Regions from separate parts of the Homo sapiens genome. Here region 2 is linked to region 1. Evidence: fine-mapped expression QTL. Tissue or cell type: testis. Region 1 holds a variant in brackets; the other region holds the start of a gene. All regions are shown on one strand. Distances are between the middles of the regions.

Region 1 (8,187 bases):
AACTTTCTTTGCTTTCTCATCTCTATATTTAATCCCAAAGTTTCCCAGAATTAAAAAGGTTTACCAACCATTTACTTTAGTAGTGTGTAAATCCCAGAAAATTGGTTTTGAGTATTAGTAAAGCATTAAATTTGTTTTATATTGGTTTTGAAAAGAAGCCACTCTATAACCAGTCTTTACTTGTTACACTATAAGAAAAATTGTCTGATATGCTATTTGTATTTAATCTGATCCATGGCTAGGTATTATTGTGATTATTACAGACAGTGTTAACTGACAAACAAAAATTGTTTGTATCTATACAAAACATCCTTACAACATGATGTTTTGAAATATACATTGTGAAGTGGCTAATTAAGATGTTTATTACCTCACATACATTATTTTTATGGTGAGAACACTTAAAATCTATTATTTTAGCAATTTTCAAGAGTACAATACATTAACTATGGTTACCTTGTTGCACAGTCATCCCTCAGTAACCAGGGGATTGGTTTCAGGACCCCTGTGGATACCAAAATCCACAGATGTTCAAGTTCCTTATATAAAGTAGTGTAGTATTTGCATATAACCTACGCACATCTTCCCATATACTTTAATCTCTAGATTACTTAGAATACTTAATACAATGTAAATGCCATGCAAATAGTTGTTATCGTGTTTTTTATTTGTATTATTTTTGTGGTTTATTTTTCCTGAAAAGTTTTAATCCATAGTTGGTTGAATATGTGGATACAGAACCTATGGATAGAGAGCACCAACTGTACATTAGATCTTTTAAACTTACTGTTCCTTTCTAACTGAAATTTCGACTCCTCTGACCAACAAAATCTCCACTGTCCTGCTCCTTCCAGAGGGCTTTTAATGATGACAGATTTTGCTTTACGCAGTTCACTTACTAAAACATCACTATAACTTAAATTCATCTTATGTAGATCTCCTTGCAGTAGGTAGATGTAAACTCTGTTGTCTGAGGATTTTTCAGATGTGGAAATTGCTGTCATCTGATTTTAACCCAATAGAAAGCATAGCATATACATTTCCAGTTTGGGGCAGCTTATTTGCCCCAACTGTTACTGTCACCTTAGGCAGCTGTAATGTTAAACAACCGTCCCTGATTGTTTCGGATGAATACTTGGTCGTGGGGTGAGGCAAGGGCAGGGTGGCAGGGGTGCATAATTCACTTTTAGGGCTCTGAGTCATGTCTATAAAGACGAACCCTGCAGGCCAGGTTAAATAGTGACAGTTCTCTTGAGTTGGTATTTGTGAGACACTCCAAACCCCTTCCGCTTCTTCCAGTAGTTGATAGGCTTCTGGTTTTCATCATAATTGCAGGGCTCTTGGTTTTCAAGGCTTCTGCAGAGGGGAGATTGGGAGTGGGGGGAGGGGGAAACTGCATGAGTTAAAATGTCATCAAACTTGCTTTTATTATGAAGATTAAGCCATTTTTCTTGAATAAATGCTCCTTAGATTATTGCATGCCTTTCGTTAATCTCCAGAGTTCTAAAAAAGTTGATTTTGATGACTTTTGCCAGTGTATTCATTGCTTTTGTGGAGGAGCAGCTTTTTCAAAGGTCCTTAACTCTGAAATTACCACTGATGTTCTGTCCCATTAGTTCCCACGTTACAAATATCTCCTTCCAATCTGCCATCTCTATTAGCTTTGCCCATGGTGTCTTTCATCGAGCAGTTCTCCTATGTTTTTTAATATAATCAAGTTTTTACCTTATGGGTTGTGTACTGGCTGTTTTAAGAAGGGTTTTTCCTACCCTTAGGTAAAGAAAGTTTTCTCCTACATTTTCTTATCTTGATTTTATACTTTTACCTTCCATAATTAGGTCTTTAATCTTAGAGTCCACCATGCGCGCACTATTAAGTAGGGAATCAATTCCACTTTCCAGCATAGAGTGAACCACTTTTCTGAAAACCATTTATAAAATAATCTGCACTTTTCCCATTTACTTATAGGACCTCCTTAATTTTATGTTAAGATTCCATATATAAATGAGTTTGTCTGCAAGCTCTCTGTTACGTTACTCAGGTTAATTTTCAGTTCCTGGATCAGTACCAAAATATTTTAATTATATGGATTTTTAGCTGGTCTTAATATCTGATATGGAAAGTCTCAATTATTCACCCTTCCTTCAGAGCTGATTTATGGGATTTATTTTTCTATTTAAACATTGAAATGTATGACATTGCTCAAAATATCCAGCTAGAATTTTGATTAGGTTGTGGTGACATTATATATTAATTTAGGAAAAAGTCACCATTATAATAAAATGCTATCATCCTATTCAAGAGCATAGAATGTCTATTCAGTTCTACTTTTAGGTCTTTAACAGAATTTAAATTTTTTCTCTATAGAGATCTTGTGAATGCTTTTTTAATTTCTAGAAACTTCATACTATATAGTTTCTGTTTCTACTAAGAATATATGTTATTTTTCATTATATCTTCTAGTAGGTTATCACTATTGTAGAGAAATGCTCTTGATTTTTGATTTTTATACATTTATCCGATGTCTGTTTACTTTGCCATACTCTTATTCTCATAATTGATGGACTCTTGTGGTTTTTCTATTCAGGTAATTATATTACCTACAATTACTTTTTTTTTCCTCCTTTGTAATCATTGTACTACTTTTTTCTTTTTTATAGTATTCACCAGGGGCTCCATTAATGTTAAACAATAGAATTTTAGTTCTGAGTTTTTACAGGTATAATACTTAGAATTTTCTGTTCTTTAATCCTTATCTTTTTCAGGAAACAAAAATTTTTGTTATTTTCTTCCTTATATATCAGACATCCTCTTTGATTTATTTCTAGTCTTGAATTCTTCCTCTAGTTTTTCAAAGTAGGTCTGTTTTGGGGGGAAATCATCTGAGGCCTTCCTTTCCTTCCCATGTTTTTGAAATTTTGGCTTCACAGTTAAATGAAAATTTGGTTGGATATAAAAACTCTAGGCTTAAAGTGCTTTTCCTTTTAATATTAAAAAAATTAATTATCTTGTGTCCAATGTTGCTATTGAGAAATTTGATATTAACCTGTTGTTACTCCTTCATAATTTACCTCTTTGAAAGCATTTATAATTTTTCTTTGTCCCAGATGATGTTAAATTTCTCTATTAAATGTCTTAGATGCGAGTTTTTCCTTTATCTGTACTGCAAGATCGAGAGGAGAGTGAGAAACCCAACTAGGGTGTAAAATTTAAGGAGGCACTCACTCCCAGGGTCATGCAAGTGCCTCCTTAAAGTTTTGCATCCTTTGTGTCTCATTGCCTCATTTTTCTCCTGCCCCTGCTACCTGTTTGGTATTCTGTGAGCTCTTTCAATCTGAGGTGTTTGAGCTTTCTTTAATTCTTGGATATATATCATCATCATTTTCTCAAATATTTCCTTCCCTTCCCTCTATTTCTTCTTAGTTCTGGTGTTGATACTTCCACCTTCCATGTCTCTGAGCTTTTCTTTATTTCTTTATCCTTTCCTGCTGCCTTCTGGGACAGCTTCTCAGTCTGATTTTCTAGTTCATGATTCTTGTTGTCTAGACCATGTATTTTTTTGTTTCAACTGTTATATTTTTTATTTCTAACATTTTTTGTTATTCCTTTTTATGACCTGTTCTTGTTCGTATTAACAATACTTTGTTCTGTATCTTTGAGGATATTTGTTATGCTTATTTTAAATTCTTGGTATATTGGTTCTGATAATTCTCCTTCACACAGTATATGTTTTAAAATTTTCTTTTATGGTCAAATTTATGGTAGATCATATTCCCCTAGGGGAATCAGTAGGCCTGTGCAGACAAAGGCTGAAGACCAGGGTCTGGTTTGTATGTCTCCCACTAAATTTGAGGAAAGAAAATGAGGCTCAGGCCAGAGAGCTTCTGGTATCACAAAACCTATTTAGACCATTGTTAATTACTGTCACTCTACTAGGCTGGTCATGTAGTCAGGAATCCACCCTACCACCCTTAAACTGTTAAAAAAAAAAAAAAAAAGGCATCACTGAGATAAGTCAGTATCTTGATGTTTTTAATTCACCAGCATTGACGGTTGCTGGGGGAATGTTGGAGGAAGAAATGCCCAAGGGGGCAACATGTACCCATTTTCATCAGCTCGTTATCCTGGAGGGACTTCTGCGCGCTTCTGCTATTACTGTATTGACAACAACTGGCTAGGCAGTTGCTGCCAGTTTCTGTGGCCCTGGGCAAGCATGATCTTCCCAAGGCAATGTGAGGGAAAGTCAAGAGCAGATTTTAAAAGCTCTCCCACAACTTATTCTTCTTGGCTACATCTGACCTTCCTACCCTCCAGTCCAAATTGCCACCAACCCTTCGTACCAGTTCACTAAAGCCTTTGGGTTTCTCACAGTTTTTTTTTGGTAGCTCCGGTTCCTGCTTCCTTTTCCCTTCCATGGTTTCCCCTTTTGTCAAGATACAAAAGAGCTGGCCCTTTGCTAACTTTGAAGACTCCATAATTTGACCCTAGCATCCTAGAGACTTCACAAACACTGCCCTTAATTTTCACAATTCAAAAAGCAAATTATTGTTTTCTTCATTTTAGAGAGGAGGAAATAGAATTTCAATGAAGTTCAGTGATTTATTTCAAAGTCACACAACTAGGAAATGTGGTAAAGCCAGAATTTGAAAACATGTCTATTTTATT[A/C]CCAAATGCATGCTTTGGATACTTCATTACCACCACCTAATTAATGCCTAAATTTAGAGCCGCTTCATTCTGTCTATACACGAAGTTATGAAACTGTGTCCGCACATACTAATGTTCTGTGAGTTGGACCATGATATTCATAAAAAAAATGGTCATCTTTTCCCACTTGGTGGAAAAAAATATAAATTATAGATAGAATTTTCTCAGTGTCATGCTTATTAAATCTTTGCACTACTGTTTTCTGTTTTCTAGCAAGTTCTAAAAGAAAGGTAATGATTAAGTAGAAAATGAGTTTTGAGCAGTTGATTGCAATTAGAAATCAAGAAAATGTTAACAGTTAACTTTTTTTATACTGCTAACTGGGAAAAGATTGCCATTTTGTAACATGTAATGTATAAGTATTTGAATATTAGTCATGCTTGCTAATAAAATTAGTTTATAACAATGTCTGAATATCAAAGTGAATTCATGAATGCTTAATACATGTAAATTTACTAACATTTTTTCTTATGTATTCCTCTAATTTTAAAGGTGTGATTTTTAAAAGTTAAATTTTATTTTTTAACAGTTGATATAAGCATATGGCACAAAATTCAAATGGTACAAAAAGATATACAGTGAAAACTGAATCTACTTCTCCCCACCTCTGTCCTCCAGTCACCCAGTTCTCTTTCCCTACAGTCACCACTGTTACCAGTTTGTTACATAGCATTTCACAGATATGTTCGTTGTACATAAACTCTTACGTACTTTTTTTTTTTTTTTTTGAGACACAGTCTTGCTCTGTCACCCAGGCTGGAGTGCAGTGGCGCGATTTTGGCTCACTGGAACCTCTGCCTCCCAGGTTCAAGTGATTCTCCAGCCTCACCCTCCTGAGTAGCTGGGACTATAGGCGTTCACCACCACGCCCAGCTAATTTTTTTTTTTTTTGTATTTTTAGTAGAGACGGGGTTTTCACCATGTTGGCCAGGATGGTCTCGATCTCTTGACCTTGTGATCTGCCTGCCTCTGCCTCCCAAAGTGCTGGGATTACAGGCGTGGGCTACTGCGCCCAGCCACATACATATTTTTTAAGGGAGAAATTTTTGTCCTTGATAGAATTTTACTTCACTAAACTTTTTTTATTGCCAGCAACAGTACTGAAAGTTGCTCTGATCTTTAAATAACCTTCTCTGCTGAAAGTAAAACTGAGTTTTAAAAATTATTTAAGATGTTAAACATACATGGAGCACAGACCAATATAATGAACTCATATACTCATCACCCAGATTGAAAGATTATTTAGAAGTGATTTTTAAAGGATTTCATACTCTTGCAAATTTTTCAGAACCCCTGTTATTGGGCGAAATGAAAAGAATTATGTGTTCAACTACAACTGCAGCAGCCCTAGAGTCTTCCAATTCCATTAGTGCTAGCTTCGGCATACAATTTCTACCCTGTGGCCACAGCCACTGGCCAAACTATAGATTCAACATAGAATTTCTCATACTCTTTCTAGTCGTGAAAAGTTAACAAATTATAGTTATGTTTTCCCTAAAATGTATTGGTATCTGTGTAAAAAGCATATCTAACAATTTTTTTTTTTTTCCTTAATGAGACAAGATCTCTCTTTCGCCCAGGCTGAAGCACAGTGGTGCAGTCATGGCTCACTGCAGCCTTGAACTTTTGGGCTCAAGCGATCCTCCCACCTCAGCCTTCCAAACAGCTGGGATTATAGGCACATGCCACCACGCCTGGCTTATTTTTTGTAGAGATGGGGTTTCACCATGTTCCCCAGGCTAGTCCTCAAACTCCTGGGCTCAAGCAATCCTCCTGTCTTGGCCTCCTCCCAGGGCATGCTGGGATTACAGGAATGAGCCACCATGCCTGACCATATTGTTGTATTAATATTAATTTTAGTTTTAAAAATTACTAATAATTCCACACGTGGGGCTAATTTGGTTGTTTTGATTTGGCTCTTTTCATGAAGAAAGAATGGTGAATCCATTCTATTTATTATTTAGATTGTGTAAATAATCTTGCATACTTCAAGAATTTAGTTTTGTTACCATATTTTATATTATTAATACTGATTATATGTCCATAAACAAATCTAATTTTTTGTCCTGACTTCACAAAATCTTTTTTTTAGTACCACTTGCCTCTCCTGGTACATCAGCAGAACTTCAAAACAATTTTATAGAATACATCTCTTTTATACATCAATATGATGCCAGAAAAACTCCGAATGAGCCTCTCCAGGGAAAGGTGAGGCAGTATTTAGAATTATTTAATACTTTAAGACAGAGTAGATTTGTAGAACTTTAAGCTTTTTCAAGTCATAATTATCTTTCTGTCTATTTAAACAAACTACTTCAGTTATTAATAGGATAGAATGTTAGCCACATACCATAGTAAAATGTAAGGAATAATACTATCCTGGTATGGTGGTGCCACCTGTAGTCCCAGCTACTCAGGTGGGTGAGGTGGGAGAGTTGCTTGAGCCCAGGAGTTCGAGGCTGCAGTGAGCCGTAATTGCACCACTGCATTCCAGCCTGGGTGACACAATGAAACCTCATCTCAATCAATCAATCCAAACATAATAATTTGAATCAGTCTTTGGAATTTGGTCTACTTAAATTATTGAAATAATTTGTGTAAAATAATATCAAAGCATGCTGGGCACAGTGACTTGACGCCTGTAGTCCCAGCTACTCTGGAAGCTGAGGTAGGAGGATCACTTGAGTTTGAGGCCAGCCTGGGCAACATAGCAAGTCTCATTTCTAATAACAATAATAATAATAATAATAATAATAATAGTAATAATATCAAAGCAGTTTGACAAATGTTTTGATATGCTTAATACATGTGTGTGGCAGGGAGATGCATGTAAGGTTTATAAAGCCAAATAGAAATGTAATTGTCAATTATTGGATTTTTTTCCAACTATAGATGTTTGCTTTCATATTTTATTATTACTTAGCTTTTCATCAGCGTTAATAGGCATTTGGGATGCAATCATAAATTCTTAGGTCTATGAACTGTAGTTTTTGTTGTATCCATAGCAATCTTTAGAGCAAGAAATGAAATTTGATGTGAATAGTCTTAAACAGTCCAAATGATAAAAAAGTTGAGAATGGGAGATGAGCTGCTACTTCTTTGACATTCTGCCTTTTTCCTTCCTGTTCATTTTCTGATGCACCCTATTTTATAATTTAAAAGGTTCACCCATATATGGTGGTGTCTAGTTTGGGACTGAGGTGACACCAATGAAGAGGCAGAGAAGTGCCTGCATCACTGACTAGGACTTGAGCTAACGCACAAATTCAGTTCACAGCTGCATCTTCCAGCAATCTGCGTTCTCCTGGTTAATGTCGACTTTGTTTTCTTTTCCAGAGACACGGAGCTTTTGTACAGAGAGAGATAAAACCAGGCAGTAGGCCAACAGTTCCTAAAGGAGCAGAGGTATTACTGAACACTCCAGGGTCACGTTCATCAGAACAGTCCAAAAAAACAGAGAAAGGAAACTCAGCGGAAAGCAGA
Region 2 (8,187 bases), 25 kb before region 1:
CTTCAAGAAGCTAAATATCCATAGCCATTCATTCAACCCATCTTCACCCCATGACCACTCTATTTAAAATACCACTGCATTATGGAAATGTCCCTTCACTATTTTCTCCACCTAAGACAGGCTTTTTCATTCACCCTTTGTTTGGTCATGCAACATTTATACAGGCAACCGTATTTGGGATTATTTAAAAATAAACCTTAAGTCATGAAATCATAGAGGTGGGCAAATTAATAAAATATAAGCCCTCCAAATTCATAAAATACAAATTTCTTCATTCAATCGGGTAAACTTGCAAACTAGTGATTTCTGATCATTTTGTAGTAACTCAGGCTGTTTTAATTCTTTCAGGAGATCTCATGTAATTAAGATTTTAATTTATATATCTATATGAATATAAACATACCCATGCATATATCCAGGATTTGTTTTGTATTTTTTGTTTGTTTGTTTGTTTTTGAGATGGAGTTTCACTCTTGTTGCCCAGGCTGGAGTGCAGTGGCACAATCTCAGCTCACCACGACCTCTGCCTCCCGGGTTCAAGCAATTCTCCTGTCTCAGCCTCCAAAGTAGCTGGGATTGCAGAGACCCACCACCATGCCCAGCTAATTTTTTGTATTTTTAGTACAGACGGGGTTTCACCATGTTGGTCAGGCTGGTATTGAACTCCCAACCTCAGGTGATCTGCCTGCCTCGGCCTCCAAAAGTGCTGGGATTACAGGTGTGGACCACCATGCCCGGCATACCCAGGATTATTTATATCAGAAGTGATCTATATGATTTCTACTAGAGATTTTTACCCTTTAGGAAATGTAACAATTTATACTTATTTGTTTAGTAATATGTCTCTCTTAAAAGCATGCTACAAATCAATTAGCTTTGAACCTCGACCAGAGGAAAACACAGGGTCCCTTTCATTTCTGTGATTTATTTGAACCTATCCATCTTCAAAGATGGGCAGACCTAACACTACCATTTTTCATTTCCATTATCCTCAAATTCATGTATATTCTGGTTTGATAAAATTTTTATAGTATAAGATAATGAAACAAAGACAACATAATGCATGCACTTAATGAATCTTCTACCCTACTAGTTATAAAAATAGGAAGACTAACAGCTAACTCTTAGTGAGTGCTATGTGCCAGGATAAGCTCTCTGAACGTATTTTCTCATTTAATCCTCACAACACATGTATATGAGGCAAATAAATTATCTTTTAAAAATAGAACTAGGACTAGCTTTTGTTTATGCCATATTTTTGAGATCCTCACCTGTATCACACGCACAACATTGAAAAAAGAACTGAGAGGAAGCTGGATCTCCCTGAGCCTCAGCTTTCCTATCAGGTTATACAACTGTGCCATTCTTTACTTCTGGAATTTTCCTATGGTTACAAAAAAATGTTGAAAATTTTCTACATCTATAACATTTTGGATGTGCAATTTCCATCTTATTGTGTTCCCTCACATATGGTGTTCTTGCTCAAAGAGCATCGGTATTTTTAACTTGCATAATATTAGTACCTACTTTGAATTATTCTTCATTGACAAGAATCCAAATATCTATCACAAATTAGAAAATTACATGTATTATTTAAGCTAGTGTGTTCATTGATTTTTCAGACAAATTTTTCAGTAGAATCACTGTATTTTACATTTGGAAGAGATCATGAAGACAATATGAAGTTATCTTTTTACAAGTCAAAATCTATAGCGCACAGAGGTTTAAGTGTCTCTCCTAGGTCAATGCTTAGTTAGTAGTAAAAACCACTAATGGCAGCCCAGTGTTTTTTCTGTATAAAAAACATCAAAAGTTATTATAAAATTCATACTTTTATGCGGCACCCTGCAGAGAATGCACCAGGAATAAATAATTGGCACATTATTATACTATCAGTACTGCAATGTGATACTTTGTCTATCAGTTATATAATGCGTTCATGTATCATTGATGTTTTGGTCACAGTTTTTTGTTTTACTGTATGTCTTATGTCTCTAACTAGATTGTGACTTCCCTGTGATTGGCACAAATTCTTTCCTTTTTTTTTTTTTTTTTTTTGAGACTGAGTCTTGCTCTGTCACCCAGGCTGGAGTGCAATGGTGCAATCTTGGCTCACTGCAACCTCTGCCTCCTGGGTTCAAGTGATTCTCCTGCCTCAGCCTCCCGAGTAGCTAGGACTACAGGTGCGTGCCACCACGCCCGGCTAATTTTTGTATTTTTAGTAGAGACGGGGTTTCACTGTGTTAGCCAGGATGGTCTCGATCTCCTGACCTCACGATCTGCCCGCCTTGGCCTCCCAAAGTGCTGGGATTATAGGCGTGAGCCACTGCACCTAGCCCACAATTTCTTTTTTAAATGTTTCTCATAGCTTTTAATAAGTCCTAGACATATGCAAGCTACTTAACAGAGATTGACATAAATATATTTAAAACTAATACCATACCGCTCAAAAGAGAGGCAAATGACTCTAATCCTGTACGGATGCAGGTGAACTTGTCAGTCTGAAAGGATCAAGTTGAGAAAATGCCCTCATTTCTTTAAGCCCTGAGATTGTTCCTGAGGGTAAGTGGTTTTAGGACTTGAAGAGATTGGTGAAGGTTGAAGCAGAAATTAGGGGGAATGATGAGGGAGTTGACTAACCCTCAAGGACATGTGGCAGCATAAGCAGATCAAGTTGATCAATAAAAATAATGGCAAAGCACTTACTAAGCATCGGGCCCTGTTCTCAGTACTCTGCCTGTATTAAATCATCTACACCTCACAACAACCCTAGGTATTTTCCCCATTTTGTGGATGAAAAAAATTGAGGCTCAGAGAGGTTAGATCATTTGCCCAAGTGAACTAGCTAGTTAAGTGGTAAAGCCAGGTTTCAAACACTGACTGCTCCCAGACCCTAAGCTCCTAATCACAGTGTGATGGTTAGGATAAGACCAGATAAGCAGGTGGTGTTTAATACAATGCCTAACAAATGCCTGGTCCCCTAGTGGAAGCTCAATTGCTATTAGTTCCCCCTGCTTTCTGGTTTTCAACCCACTTGCCCCATATTTATTTACTCATCCACTCCTTACTCACCAAACACACACACACACAATGACACATTCACACACACTCCAGTCTTTAACAACGAAGTCCACACTCAGGTATTTAGGTCACTAGGTGTCAAATCTACACATATATTCTTCTTCCTGATAGGATTTCAGGTCACATACATAAAATGAGTCCTAGGACCAACCTCTGCTCTCCCATCACTCTCCAAGGTGAATGTAAACACACACACGAACACTGACTCTGGATTCCAAACATATACGTATGCATAGCCTGATATAAGGCAGAATTCAACTCTGGACTTTTCTTTTTCCGTTATCCAGGGAAATGCGTGAGTTACTATGACAGATGCCAAAGACTTTTGGCTCTGGTAGTGGAAATTGGGAGGCAATGGTGAAATGAAGTAAGAAATTCCAGGGCCAGAAGGTGGATGCAAGTCAGCAACGGCTTTTCCCAGGAGCTTGCTCTTTTTGGGTAAGTGCTACACATACAAGCCCCAACCCGCTGCCTAAGCTACCCTATTCTGAACCCCGCTCAGGCTGCAACAGATGACACACAGCAGGGAGCCTCATTTGCAGGAGATGAGTGTTCCCTTGCTCTATTTTAATCCTGGCAGCCCAGCCGGGGAAGGTTTTGTCAGAAATGGTGGAAAACAGTGACAACCAAGCTTTCTGGAGTAAAGGCTAGGCAGCTCAGGAGCAACCAATCACGACTCGCACAGTATTGTTAACAATACAAGGGAAAACAAGTATCCTTCCCGCCGGCCCGCACTTTTGCAGCCAGCTTGGGCGACCCGTGGCAGCGCTTTGACGACGACCTGCCGGGCTCCGGAGGGCGGGCACGGCGGAGACGGCAGCAGCGCTGCCCCGCAGCTCCGGAAACAGCCCTTCCCCTATCCTCAAGGACCAAATCAGTCCTGATAAACACCCCTCCTGGCCCTACAATGGGAAGGGCAAGTTCAAACGCAGGGCGTCGAGCCCACACGCCTAGAGACGCGGCCAGGCACCCCCGCCCTCCTCGCCGCGCAGTCGCGCACAGTGAGCAACAGTCCAGCACCAACCCGGCTTAACTGCGCCTGCGCACTCCAGGAGTTTCCCCCCACGCCCCTTTCCGAGGACTAGCGCCCGTCGCTTAGCAACGCGCGAGTCACAGTCGCCGCGCTTTGCGCACCCTTTTCCTGGCAGGGCTGCGTCCCTGTTCTTCCCAGGAGGCTCCTCGCTGCCTGGTGCCGTAGAGGCCCATGGAGGAAAAGGAAGATAAGCATCAGTAAGTGCTGGGGTTTGGTGTCTTATTTCCCTTTCCAAAAACTATTTTCCTCCTTCAGGGGGAGGCCGGGATCCAGCATGGACAGTCCAGGCCAAGCTCAGACAGCCCCCTTGCTTCTCTAATTTCCAGTTGGCTGAGCGCTTACAACAATAATTTTTAAAACGCACCGTTTACTGAGCACATACTGTGTGTCAGGGACTTGACTTGCATTACCGGATCTAAAATTCTTGAAGTCATCCACTCCTTCTCACAATTATTAGCAGATTCTGTAGTCTTTACCTTTAAAATTATCCAGAATCTACCACTGCTCATCACTTTCAGTACTGTGCCCACCCAGTCCCAAGTACCAGCTTCTCTTGCCGGGATGCTGCAACAGCCCTCCAGTTGGTGGCTTTGCTTTTCCCTTACCCCTCTGCAGCCTCCTCGACACAGCAGTCAGAGCTATCCGTTTACAGCCCAGGTTAGATCGCCGTTCTCCATCCGACATCGTAGAGTAAAAGCCAAGGCACCTCCAATGGCCTATGGAGTCTACACAACACGCCCCTTACCGTTTCTTGCCTCCCTCTGACAGGACTCTGCTACAGCAAACAGGCCTTTCTGCTATCATCTGCAGTGATAAAGACCAGCATCAGCAGCACCTGGTTGTTAGGAATGCAAATTTTGGGGACTTCCCACCCCCGAGACACACAGAATCAGAAACTCTATGGCTGGGGCTCAATAATCTGGCTTCAACCAAGGCATCCAGGTGATTCTGATGTACCTTAAATTGAGACTATTAATCAAGGTAGTACATACAGCTAGTTAGGAATGATGTGGAGCCAGGGATACCCTCTTCCAAAGCCTGTATTTTTGTCCCTGGAACAATGGTTCTCACACTTGAACGTGCATAAGAATCAGCGAAACAGCTGGTTAAAACACGTTCCTGGGAACCAGCCCCAGAGATTCTGAGTTTGCAGTGCTTTCTAAAAACAAGTAAACAAAAAACTAGGTACATAAAGGAAATGGGCCCCATAAATTTGTATTTCTAACAAGGTCACAATTGATGCCAATGCTGCTACTCCAGTGCCCATACTTTTAGAAGCAGTGCGCTAAGGATGGTTACACTTCTGCTGGGAAGCTTTGGCAGTTACAGTTCACTCTGCTAGAATGCTTTTCCCACAAATATGCACTTAGCTCTCTCTTCCCCTCTTTTTTCATTTGCCACCTTCACAATGCAGCCTCCACCCTACCTGAAAATGCAAACCTACCTCCTACATACATACACTCCCTTTTCCCATTCTCTATTTTATTATTGTCCTTAGCACTTAACAGACTATATAATTTACTTTTTCATCCGCCTTTCCCCATTAGAGTGTAAGCTCTATGAGGGCAGGAATTTTTGTTTTGTCACTGCTTTATCATCAGTGCCTCCAACAGCACCTGGCACGCAACTCAATAAATATCTGTTGAAACAATGAATTATTCAATGTTATTCTCATATCTCTTACAATAGGTATTGTTCCTATCATGCAAATGAGACAAAGGCTCAGATATGGCAGAACTGGGATTCCAGTCCCTGTCTGACTCACTTCAGAGCCCATCAGTGTTTTTATCTGTGCTTTTCTTCTGGCAAGAGATTGCTCGAGTCATATATTTCACACTTATTTATCAACCCGTAGGCATTCATACCACAAGTGCTTAATCAAATGAATTTAACTATATAACAAATAGCCCCAGTCCTTTTCTTCAAGGACTTGATCACTACAAGTGTATATTGTTGGGTGATAACTATGAGAAACAGGTGGAAAAAACTGATGCCAGAAGCCTACAATAATAAATTAATTGACCCCAAAGACTCTACCTTTAAATAAATAATTGTATCTCTGGAAAGGTAATAGAAAAAGGTTTAGAAGTTTTTTACACTTTACCAGTAATCAGTTTTTCCAAATCCTTTGCAGAAAGTAATTTTTGGGAAGCAGGGAACTAGAATCCAAGGATTCTGAATGTTGTTTTTATGTGTACTGGAGGGGTGGTTGAGGGTATTCAAACAAAGCTGGAGTAAACTCCAGCAGATTCACCAGAAATATGTAAATGTTATAATGGCAGTCCATTTACCTTGGATGAACAGGACACTTTTCCTGATGTTGGGCACATGGTGAATTCAACAATGTACACCTTCATGGAACTTATTGACTAGTAAAGGATATTTGTAGTGCTTACTAAAAACAAGTAAACAAAAAACTAGGTACATAAAAAATTGTGGTGTTAATAAAAGAAATGAACAAAGTACTAAAATAGAGAATACATGTGGTAGAGGAAAGAAATCTAGGAAAAGCTGCTGAGGAGATGGTTTTAAGCTGAGACCTAAATATCCTGAGCCAGCTGTGCTGGGAGCTGGGGAAGAGCTGTCCAGGCAGAGCGAACAGCATGTGCAGGTGCCGTGAGGGAAAAGAGATTGATGTGTCCCTGGAACTGACAGAAGGCAGTCTGGTTGGAGGGTCTTGAGTGAAGTCGAAGAGGTTCACTGGGGCAAGTCACACAGGACCTCAGAGCTACAATTAGGAGGCAGTATTTTATTGTAAATGAATGGAAAACTACTTGAGGGTTTTAACTGCAAAATGATGTGGGCGAGGCACAGTGGTTCACGCCTGTAATCCCACCACTTTGGGAGGCCGAGGCTGGCAGATCACCTGAGGTCAGGAGTTAAAGACCACCCTGGCCAACATGACGAAACCCTGTCTCTACTAAAAAAAAATACAAAAATTAGCCGGGCGTGGTGGTGCGCGCCTGTAACCCCAGCTACTCAGGAGGCTGAGGCAGGAGAATCACTTGAACCTGGGAGGCAGAGGTTGCAGTGAGCGGAGATAGCACCACTGCACTCCTGCCTGGGACAGAGTAAGACTCCGTCTCAAAAAGGAAAAAAAGAAAAATGATGTGGTAGAAGAGATGGACCTGGCATTCGTTTGGAGGAAGGCAGGTGTTATACTTTAAGGGCTGTGTATAAGATTAAACGGTGCTACCTGCTTTCTCTGTGAATTTGGAGTTTCATTGACTCACCTGCTGTGGGATCATGGCTTTGATTTTAAAAGCTTCTATGTAAAAAGTATTCAAATTCATATATTTCATTCTTTATTTTTCAAGTATGTGAATTTTAAAAATACTGCCTTTTATAATTTCAATTTCTCCTTATTTGAAAGGAGAAAAATCTGATAAGCTGTTTCTTCCTATACATTTTTAAAATATTTTATTTTAGTAATTTTCGTATTTGTAACAGAGTGCTTACTAGAGGCAAAAAATGAAGAGATTTATTTTGACTGCCACATAGTGTTCTTTTCTTGAAAAGATAAATAATGGTGCTCCTTTGGTAGCTTTAAGTTTGCCAGACAAACTTTTAAAATTAATTGGTTTATCCTTGTCCAGATAGCTGTTTACTAGGTAAACGGGAGAATAAAGCCATTCTCTTGGTAATAAAACTTTTAAAGAAGTTGAGTTAACTATAGCGTGTAACTTATCCACACACGTGAGTACTGCAAACATGATATGGAAGCATAATCCAATCACTACTCTTTCTTTACTCCAAGCAAATAAGAGTTGGTGCACTGCACTGGTATATTATAATGAGTAATCATTATTAACACAAAGCCCTTTATCGCTTATATGATTTAGAATTAGAAAATGGCCTCCTAAATTTTAACAGCACAAACCCTTATAACTATTAATACAGCCTAAATTGTCTTGACTGCTGTTTGTAGTATATTTAAATCTTATTTTACATAATTTTGACTCAATATTTTAATGGTTACTGGGGTAAATGGTTTACTATTTATGTTTTTCAGACAGCATAAAATAGAGGATGCTGCTATAACATATGTAAGTGAAAATGAAGAAATTAAACAC

What was found. PIP is the estimated chance that this variant, and not a neighbour inherited with it, causes the effect.
Region 2: it holds the start of CIMIP6, and the variant in region 1 is fine-mapped to the expression of CIMIP6 in testis (GTEx, PIP 0.97).

The regions. Positions count from the first base shown.
Region 1 is chr2:54,352,163-54,360,349 of GRCh38, forward strand. It overlaps CIMIP6 (ciliary microtubule inner protein 6), which reads left to right. Exons shown (of 5, transcript NM_001100396.2): 4 at 6,797-6,912; 5 at 8,041-8,187. Among named protein-coding and RNA genes, the nearest start is that of CIMIP6, 25 kb to the left of the region's middle. The variant A/C (reference allele first, on the strand shown) is at 4,666.
Region 2 is chr2:54,326,691-54,334,877 of GRCh38, forward strand. CIMIP6 (ciliary microtubule inner protein 6) reads left to right here and starts at 4,194. Exons shown (of 5, transcript NM_001100396.2): 1 at 4,194-4,311; 2 at 8,127-8,187. The coding sequence starts at 4,286.